Linked DNA regions of Homo sapiens: region 1 is linked to region 2. Evidence: fine-mapped expression QTL. A gene starts in region 2. The other region holds a variant in brackets. All regions are shown on one strand. Distances are between the middles of the regions.

What was found.
Region 1: its variant is fine-mapped to the expression of TP53RK in adrenal gland (GTEx, PIP 0.98).

Annotation. Positions count from the first base shown.
Region 1 is chr20:46,544,791-46,550,168 of GRCh38, reverse strand. It overlaps OCSTAMP (osteoclast stimulatory transmembrane protein), which reads left to right. Exons shown (of 3, transcript NM_080721.3): 2 at 3,840-4,842. Among named protein-coding and RNA genes, the nearest start is that of OCSTAMP, 3.2 kb to the left of the region's middle. RefSeq lists enhancers at 5,082-5,151, 4,358-5,209. The variant G/A (reference allele first, on the strand shown) is at 2,716.
Region 2 is chr20:46,686,978-46,692,355 of GRCh38, reverse strand. TP53RK (TP53 regulating kinase) reads left to right here and starts at 2,912. Exons shown (of 2, transcript NM_033550.4): 1 at 2,912-3,224; 2 at 5,125-5,378. The coding sequence starts at 2,942. It overlaps TP53RK-DT (TP53RK divergent transcript), which reads right to left and starts at 3,057. Exons shown (of 1, transcript NR_186399.1): 1 at 2,067-3,057. RefSeq lists an enhancer at 2,464-3,053 and a silencer at 3,284-3,333.

The sequences.
Region 1 (5,378 bases), 140 kb after region 2:
AATTGTTTTTATTATTAGCTATTATTCCAAAAGCTACTGTGTTCCAAATATTAATTATATAGTAGAAGGGGGTGTTTAGTCCCAAATTCAAATGCCTTCGGGAGCTGGGAAGGGGTTGCACCTGTGGAAGGCCACCTGGGTGTGCAGACGGACCCGTTCATTGATCAGCAGGATGCAGTCTGCAGGGCTGCTCCCCTGTCAAAGGTGGGTAGTGGATACTCAGCTCCAGCTACCTGTTGCAAAGGTGGGAGCTCTAACCCAGATCTTCTTATCTCTCAAGAAAAGCTGGAAACCCAGATTTTAATGTGAAACTTCCTTATTTCCAAATGGGGGCAGCTTACACACACACACACACACACAGAGTGGGCCACAATAAGGCACATTTGCATATGATTCAGCCTTTAGGGCTTCAAGGTTGTGACCTTCACTCCAGCCCCACAGGCCTCACTGCATCTCAGCTTCCCACTGTTCTGGTTCTCCCAACTCCCTATTTCCCGATGGTCAGAGCACAGGACCTTTGCACACGCTGTTCCTTCTGTCAGGGATGTCCAACTCCCTTCTTCACCCACAAACTGACACTTGTCCTTCCACCCCCAGCTGGAATGTCACCTCTTCCAGGGAGCCTTCCTGACTCCCAGGTAAAACTGGGTCACTCTCCATCTATCCCACCCCAGTCCAGGCCCAGGCATACTATGCTCAGAATTCTTTGTTAATGAACTTAAACTCTAATGGTCTATTTAAGTCTCCTCAATTAGACTGTGAACTCCTTTAGTGGGACCAGGACTTAATTCATCTTTGTGTCCACAGGGGTCAGCACAGAGCCTGGGCACAGAGGAGACTCGAGTGAAACATTTACATCGTTGACATAAGTATCATCAGAGTAACAAGTGGTGCAGTTTTATAGGATCCCTCTTCTGTGCCAGACCCTGTGTAAACTTCTTTACATGGATTATTTCATTTTATTGTCCCAGAAGCCCTGTGACAAAGGTTTCTGTATTAGTCAGGACTCATTGAGTTGCAAGTGACAGATTGATCTTACACTGCCTGTAGAAAAACAGACATCTCCTAGTGTGTGGTCCGGCATAGATTTCGGCTTCAGGCATTTCTGGATCCAGGTCCTCCAACAAGGCCACTGGGACTCTCTGTCTGTTTCCTAACACTGTTTTCCTTGTGTTGCCTTCATCCCAGGCCGACTCATACTACATGGTGGTCCCCAAGGCTTGAGGCATCTTCCTACCAGCTTAGCTCTCAAGGCAACAAAGGGCAGTTTTTTTGTCGTTGCAGCAAAATCCTGAGGAAAGCTCTATTGGTCCATCTCCGGTCAGGTGCAATCCCTGCACCAGTCACGGTGGCCAGGGGATCAGAGGTACTTGGATCAACTAGACCCAGTCACATGCTTATCCTTCAAGCTGTTGATGGTGGAGCAAGTCAGCAGCTTTGCCTGTAACCAACACAGTGACAGCCTCCCCACCACCCTCCCTGCCCTTTATAACCATATTCCCGTATAACCTTTCTGCCTGCTCTCACTTAAGATAATGTATGATCTCCAACCTCAAGTGGGCCTCAGTGTTGCCCAGCACATATGTTATTGCCCCAGTTCGTTTGTTCTCCCACTTTCCTGGGCAACCATTTTGTACTTTCTTCTTCCTCTTCAAGCATCCATCACCTCCGCCAGCATCTTACCTTCTCTGCTGACCTTGCTTCCTGCCAACCTGAGCAAACAGAAGCAATCGGTCATGCTACTCTTAATGAATAGTTTTGGAGCACTCACAACATGGCAGACACTATTGTAGGCACTTGGGACATATCAGTGACCAAAACGGACAAAGTCCCTGCTCCGGTGGAGTTGACTCTAGTGGTAGGTAATAGCTGATGTGATACTTACCATGTGCCAGAAACAAAGTGACCCCAGGAGGTGCATACTTTTATTGCACCATTTTACAGATGAGACAGCTGAGACACAGAAAGGTTGTGATATGTACCCAAGTTCACATAGCTGGCAAGTGGTGGAGCAGAAATTTGAGCCCAGGCAGTCCAGAGGTCATGCCCTTAACATTACTCTGCTCTGCGTATATCAGAGGATACTTTTCACAGGTGCATACACGCTGCCTGTTCATTCGCCATCATCTGTACCTATTTCCTCTGCTTTCCCACCTGCTATTAAGGATGAACGACCCCTGCTCTATTCTAAGACCAGCCCCACCTTGCATGTTCTCAGTCTCACTCTCTGCCTCCACCCCTACAGGTGTCACTCCAGGGAGTCTCCCCTTTGTCAATGTCTCCCCTCTCGATGAGATCTCCCACCTGCAAACATGCTATAGATTTCCTCCCTTTACATGAATTCTCTTGGTCCAATTTCCCATAGCTACCAGCCACTGCTTCATCTCCCTGCTGTTTTAGTGTAGAAATTACCGGAAAGAGTTGTCTGTATCTGTGTTTCCTATTCTTCTCCTTCCCGTCTCTCCTGGACCCAGTCTAGTTGGATTTTGGCCCCAAAAGCCACCGAACTCTCCCTGCCAAGGTCAACAGTGACCTCTAAGCGGCTAATAGGCATTGCTCAGTCCTCATCATTCTTGACCTGTTGGCTGCATTTGACGTACTTGATCACTCCTTTCTCCTTGAAACATTTTGTTTATTTGGCTTCCTAAGCACCACATTGGTTTCTCAGTCTCTTTTGCTGGTTCCTCCTTATCTAAGAGCCCCTAACCTTGGAGC[G/A]CCTTGAGGCATGTCCTTGGATGTCTTTCCTCCCCAGTGACACACTCTCTTGAGGAATCTCATGGTGCACATGGCTTTAGGTAGGGATATAAAGTTGGGAGACATCTAATAATCAGACTCCCAATGTTATAACTCCAGCCTGACCTCCCCTCTGAATTCCTGACTTCTATTTCCAACCACGTCGTCAAAAGCTCCACGGAATGGCTCAACTGAATCTCAAATTTAAGAGTTCTGAACTGAATTCCTCCTCTCTCCCCCTCCACTCAAACCTGTTTTGACCACAGAGTTCTCATCTCAGGAAATGACACCTTGGTGCTTCCAGTTGCTCAGACACAAAAGCACCTCGTCATCCTTGACTCCCCTCTTTCTCTCACACCCCACAACCAATCAGCCTCTGCAAATCTTGTTGACTCTGCCAACAAAATGTGTTCAGAATCCAAGCTTTCCTTACTACTCCTCTGCCATCGCTCTTAACATAGTGCAAGCCCCACGAAGGTAGGGACTTCTGTTTTTTTCATTCCTGTTTCTCCAATGGTTAACACAAAGTCGTTGCTTGATAAACACTTGTTGAATGAATAAATATAAGGATGATAGAATATAAAAGTCCCTCACAGGCCAACTAGTTCACCCTCCTCACCCCTAAATTATAGAGGAGACCCTGAAGTTCAGAAAGAATAGAAGGTCCAGAATCATACAGCAAGCCACCAAGACTATTAATTCAAGTGAAATCGTTTCTCTTCTTCTCTCTCCTCTTACTCATTCTCTCTCTTTCACCTGTGCTTCTCGCTCCATGACTCTTTCATTCTCTTGGGCCAGTTGCCTTCACAAAACTGTAATAATGGACTCAAACAGGGCAGACTTTCATCCTCACATCCTCAGGTACTGCATGGGAATTGGGCTCTTCCCTGACAGTTCCAGCGAGAGTAATCCTGGGGAAGGCTCTGATTGGTTCAGCTTGTGTCACGTGGGTATACAGTGACTTACTCTGATTGGTCCACCTGGGTAACTACAAGGGTGGAGTCTGTTAGCAGAGCCTGGTGATGGGTATGTGGGGCAGGGGCAGTGGACAGACACCCACCCACCCACCTCCTGATAGAGATGCCCTTCAATTTCCTTGTGTGCAGGTGGAGGTCCTGGCACTTGGGGTTCTGGAAGGCCCTTGCCCCACTGCAGGCTGCCTGGGACGCCTTCTCCCAGCCTGTTCCAGCCAGCTGTGGCCAGCTGCTGACCCAGCTCCTCCTGTGTGCCTCCCTGGCTGCTGCTGCTGCAGGTCTGGTTTATCACTGGCTGGCATCCTTGCTGCTTTATCCTCCTGGACCTTCAGCCATGGTTGCCACTGTCTGTGGCCTCCTGGTCTTCCTGAGCCTGGGCCTGGTACCCCCAGTCCGCTGCCTGTTTGCACTCAGCGTGCCCACCCTGGGTATGGAGCAGGGCCGCCGGCTGCTCCTGTCCTACAGCACTGCCACCCTGGCCATTGCTGTGGTGCCCAACGTCCTGGCCAACGTGGGTGCGGCCGGGCAGGTGCTGAGGTGTGTCACCGAGGGCTCCCTGGAGAGTCTCCTCAATACCACTCACCAGCTGCATGCAGCATCCAGGGCTCTGGGCCCCACAGGCCAGGCAGGCAGCCGGGGCCTGACATTTGAGGCCCAGGACAATGGCTCTGCCTTCTACCTTCACATGCTCAGGGTCACTCAGCAGGTCCTGGAGGATTTCTCTGGCCTGGAGTCCCTGGCCCGGGCAGCAGCGCTAGGGACCCAGCGAGTGGTCACAGGGCTGTTTATGTTGGGCCTCCTGGTGGAGTCGGCATGGTACCTCCATTGCTACCTGACAGACCTGCGGTTTGACAATATCTACGCCACTCAACAGCTGACCCAGCGGTTGGCACAGGCCCAGGCTACACACCTCCTGGCCCCTCCACCCACCTGGCTGCTCCAGGCGGCTCAGCTGAGGCTGTCACAGGAGGAGCTGTTGAGTTGTCTTCTAAGGCTGGGGCTGCTTGCCCTGCTCCTCGTGGCCACGGCTGTGGCGGTGGCCACAGACCATGTAGCCTTCCTCCTGGCACAGGCTACTGTGGACTGGGCTCAGAAGTTGCCAACTGTGCCCATCACGCTCACGGTCAAGTATGATGTAAGTGTGATGATGGGAAAAGGGAAGGGAGTCATTGTTTTGAGGGCAGGGGGAGAATCTGTTAAACCCTTGACTTGTGATGAAATTTGACTTGCCTCCAAGAAACAGCCCTTGAATCATCCATGGGGCCCCATACCATGGGCAGAGGGACTCATCGGATACCCACAACAGCTCTAGGAAGTGGTTTCTATTTTCACTTCCTATTGCAGTTGAGGATGCTGAAACCCAGACACCTTAAAATAACTTGCATCCAAGGTCACCCTTCACAAGTGGCAGCTTGTCCTAGCCTCATTTTCCACATTTGTACAAATTGAATCGATCCTCCTAATCCTAAAAGGCTATTGTGTCTTACAATGTGGTATTGTCTTAAAGTACCTAGTAAGCTCCATGGCACATAAGAGATTATTTAATAAAGAGTGGCTATTATTAATAGCTTACATCTGTCTATGTCAGACTGGAGGAGGACTTTGGAATGGCCTTGATCAGGAGGCATCCAACTATAGCCTTCAGGACAAATCCAATGGCTTCTTGGTTTT
Region 2 (5,378 bases):
ACAACAAAACAAAAAAAAATGAAACAAAACTGGAGAAGTAACATTGTTAAAATGTCCTACAGATTCCATGTAATTCTTATCAATATTCCAATGACATTTTTGTAGAAATAAAAAATTCTAAAATTTATATAGAATCATAATAGACTCCATATAGTCAAAGCAATCTTGAGCAAAAAGAACAAAGCTGGAGGCATCATATTGCCTGACTTCAAAATATACTACAAAGTTATTGTAATCAAAACAGCATGTCACTGGCATAAAAACAGGCACATAGACCAATGGAACAGAATAGAGAGCCCAGAAATAAATCCACGCACTATAGTCAATTGAGTTTCATCAAACATGCCAAGAACGCGTAATGGAGAAAGGACAGTCTTTTCTATAAATGGTGTTGGGACAACTGGATATTCATGTGAAAGAATTTAGACTCTTATCTTACATCATATGCAAAAATCAACTCAAAATGGATTAGACTTAAATGTAAGAGCCAAAACTATAAAACTCTTATAAGAAAACAGGGACAAAATGTCATGGCATTGGCCTGAGCAACGATTTTTTGTGTAGGACTCTCAAAACACAGGCAGCAAAAGTGAAAATAGACAAATGGAATTGCATCAAACTAAAACGTTTCTGCACAGTCAAGAAAAAAGAAAAAAAAAGAGTGAAAAGACAAACTACAGAATGGGAGAAAATTTTTGCAAACCATACATCTGATGAGGGGTTAATATCCAAATATATAAGGAATACAATCCAATAGTAAGAAAGGACAAAACCTGAATTAAAAGTAGGCAAAAGATCCAAAGAAATCTTTCTCAAAAGAAGACATAAAAATGGACAACGGGTATATTAAAAAAAAATGCTCAACATCACTAATCATCAGCGAAATGCAAATTAAACCCACAATGAGATATCACCTCTGACCTGTTAGAATCGCTATTTTAAAACATAAGAAAGATAATAAGTGTTGGCAAGGATGTGGAGAAAAGGGAACCGTTGCACCCTGTTGATAGGAATGTAAATTAGTACAGACATTATGGACAACAGTATGGAGGTTCTTCAAAAAAAATAAAAATAGAACTACCTTATGATCCAGCAACCCTACTACTGGGTACATATCCAAAGGAAACAAAATCAGTATATTGAAGAGATGTCTGCAGTCCCATGTTAATTGCAGCATCATTCACAATTCTCAATCTGAGTGTCCATCACTAAATGAATGGATAAAAATATGGTACATTTATATACACAATGGGATACTATTCAGCCTTTAAAAAGAATGGAATGCTGTCATTTACAGCAACATGGATGGAACAGGAGGATATTGTGTTAAATGAAATAAGCTAGGCACAGAAAGACAAATATCCCATGATCTCACTTATATGAGGAAGGTAAGAAAAGTTGAACTCATGCAAGCAGAGTAGAATGGTGGTTACCAGGCGGTGGGGTAGGGGGAGGGAGATAGGGAGGATTTTGAGAAGTTGGTCAAAGGATACAAAATTTCAGTTAGATAGGAGGAAACATTCATGAAATCTATTGCACGACATGGTGACTATAGATAATAACAATGGGTTGTATTCTTGAAAAATGCTAAGATAATAGATTTTAAGTGTCCTCACCCCCGAAATGATCAGTATGTTAGGTAACGTTAACTAGCTGGATTTAGCCATTCCACAATGTATACATATTTCAAAACATGTTACTTACGATAAACACGTACAATTTTTACTTTTCCTTATGTACGTCTTCATCTGGCTGTTCATTTTTATCTTTTATACTATCTTTTATAATAAACTGGCAATAGTAAGTAAAGTGTTTTCCTGAGAAACAACAAACTGGAAACAACTGTTTAGCAACAAGAAACTGCCTGACCAGGTAGAAGGACGTGGTAGCTCTGTATGTATTGATATGGAATATAGTCTGAGATAAATTGTTTAGGAAAATGAAAAGCAAGTTGCCAAAGAACCCACAGTATGATGTCATTTATGTTGGAAAAAACGCCACAACGATGTGTGAGTGTGCACACTGAATGAAAGAAAATTCTGGAAAGAAACTAACGGCCAGCAGTGTCACAAGGGGGATAGGTAGTTTATTTATTTATGTGTGCGTGTGCAAAGTTCCGTATTGTAAGAATTTGCTACAGCCTGTGTTATTATAAGCTTTGTAATGAAACAGGTAGAAACTGAAAAAGTTTAATTATTCCCAATTCAGTTTAGGTTCTGTCTCCGGAAGACTTTCCCGGATTCCCCAGCCCCCACTCCCCACCCCATCTTACCACCCCCTCTGCCAGCTCTGAGTCTCAATTTTCTTTTCTGTAAGGATTTTCATCATTTAACCTTATTTCTTCTGAATGCACTAAATGGTAGTTATCCTAGCACTTAAGAGGATGTCGGAAACATGGTTCATTGTCTGACCCTTCCGACTCTGACTTGTATGAGCACATTTTGGGGGGAATGTAGGAGTCAGGGGAAGAGGAGTTCCAAAAAGAGACTACTAGAGGGTACAGCTGTCCCGGAAGAGACTTCTGAAGAGAGCAAAGCGCGTCCGACGTTTTTCTCGAGAGGCGCCGAAGTTTTCCGGAAAGAGACGACCAACTGAGAGGTGGGCCCCCAAAGCCGGCTGCGAGAGTCACCGAAGATTTCCGGAGAGCCAAGGAGTCGGGAAGAGCCACTTACTGAGCGTTGCCGAACGTGTACGGAGATAGCCGAAGAGGCGGAAGGCGGGGCCACAAGAGCCCTTCCTGCAGGGAACCTCAGGCTTCAGAGAGCCGAAAAGTTGGGAGGCGTAACCACTTACAGGCCGGAAGTGTCCGGGGTGGACGCATTCGGGTAGCCGAAGAAGTCCCAGGATTGCCGAAGAAGTCCCAGGATTTCCGAAGCGAGCCGAAGCATCGCGACAGTTTTCAGAGACAGCTGATCGGTTGGAGCTGTTGCGCCGAGCAGTCATGGCGGCGGCCAGAGCTACTACGCCGGCCGATGGCGAGGAGCCCGCCCCGGAGGCTGAGGCTCTGGCCGCAGCCCGGGAGCGGAGCAGCCGCTTCTTGAGCGGCCTGGAGCTGGTGAAGCAGGGTGCCGAGGCGCGCGTGTTCCGTGGCCGCTTCCAGGGCCGCGCGGCGGTGATCAAGCACCGCTTCCCCAAGGGCTACCGGCACCCGGCGCTGGAGGCGCGGCTTGGCAGACGGCGGACGGTGCAGGAGGCCCGGGCGCTCCTCCGCTGTCGCCGCGCTGGTAAGGTGGGCCGGGATCCCGGCGTGGGCGGCCCCGAGGCTCTGGGGCCTGGGCGGGTGAGGGACTCCCCTGCGCTCCGAAGCTGGATTTCCCTCAGTTTCTCCTTCTGTGCCTTCTGCGGTGTCCGGCCTTTCGGAAATGTTATTCTTTCATCCCTTTTTTCATTCGTTAAGTCTTAAGAAACCACGTGGCCATGCAGCGTCAAGCTTTTGTCCTGAGGCCGTTCTGCCTGGTTCAAATCTGGGATCTGTCATTATTGCTCAATGTTGAACATGTTTAACTTCCCTGAGCCTTGGTTTCCCCATTTGACTCGTTTCAATTTTCGATCATTATCTTTCCATTTATTAGTTTTAAGAAACATGTAATGACAAGTACTTGCCCCACTGGAGCCAGGCTCCCTGGGTTGAAATACTAACTCTGCTGCTTGTGTAGCCTTTCAACAAGTTATTTAGCCTCTCAGCCTCGGTTTTCTCACCTGTAAAATGGGAGACATAGTAGCAGTATCCATGTCATAGGGATGTTGTGACCATTAGAGGAGGTATGTGTGTCACGTATTATGTTCAAATGTGTGCCTGGCACATAGTGCCCAATAAATGTTGGATTTCATTAAATTGCCTATTTTTTCATTAAACATCATTGTGCGCCAGCACCATAAACTTTGTCCTCAGATGAGAAAGTGACACTCAGAGAGAAGTAACTTGCCCAAGGTTACACGGTTACTAAGTGGCCGGTCCAGGCCCTCAGCTCCTTATGCCTCTGACTCAGAAGCCCTGGCTTTTTACTTTTACGCTTCTTGCCTTTCTTTTATCAGTATTTTTTAGGTACCAGTGGGTACCAGGACATTGTTAAGTGCTGGGAGATCTGGGTGGGGGATATTCAGTAGCCAACAAGCGGACACATTGCTGCCCTTTCAGAGACTTAAGATTTCATGAAGTTATTTGTGTATTCATATTTCTGTTTTCAGCCTCATGATCTGTTTCGTTAAGCAGAGATTGTATTATAGCTGGCTTGTTTATTGCTGTATCCCCATTGATAACATCTCTCAGTTTCTAGAAAAGTATACTGAGCCTGGTTGACTTTCAGTAAAGATTCATTGAGTTTATTGGAGCTATTGTTCCTTGTATAGTAGCAGAAACTGAGGCTTAGAGAAGTTAATGTAATTTTAAGATTAGATTAGACAACTAATAAGAAAAGCAGCTGGGATTTGAACCCTGTCCTCTCTGACTACGAAGATGAACCTCGAAGCTAGCACACTGCTTGGCCTCCTGTTTGTGTCCTCATCAGTAGAAACTGCTCTGACTGGGCTGTGCCTTGCTCTTTGTTTTTGTTTTTTGAGACAGTGTCTCACTTTGTCACCCAGGCTGGAGTGGTGCAGTGGCACAATCTCAGCTCACTGCAACTTACGCTCCCTGAGTTCAAGCTATTCTCCTGCCTCAGCCTCCCGAGTAGCTGGGACTACAGGCGTGAGCCACCACACCTGGCTAATTTTTGTATTTTTAGTAGAGATGGGGGTCTCGAACTTCTGACCTCAAGTGATCCGCCTGCCTCCGCCTCCCAAAGTGCTGGGATTACAGGCATGAGCCACCACACCCGGCCTTTGTTTTGTTTGTTTTTTAGAGAGTGAGTGTGACAAATGAAGTCCAGTGAGAAAGGGTGGTTTGGAAGGGAGGAGGAAGCTATGGCCTCCTCAGTTTAGCTGTGGGGTGTTCCCAGGCATAGTCCTGCAGTGGGCATGAGCAGGGGAATATTCCAGATGAGTTCAGTTGTACCATTTCCTGTAGCATTCCTCAATAGTCCTGAAATAAGTAGATATAGATGGAAAAACTGGCTTAATCTTTGAAAATTAAGTTTACCCGTTAAAAAAAATCCAACCCAATAACCACTTATGTCTTGATTTCAGGAATATCTGCCCCAGTTGTCTTTTTTGTGGACTATGCTTCCAACTGCTTATATATGGAAGAAATTGAAGGCTCAGTGACTGTTCGAGATTATATTCAGTCCACTATGGAGACTGAAAAAACTCCCCAGGGTCTCTCCAACTTAGCCAAGACAATTGGGCAGGTTTTGGCTCGAATGCACGATGAAGACCTCATTCATGGTGATCTCACCACCTCCAACATGCTCCTGAAACCCCCCCTGGAACAGCTGAACATT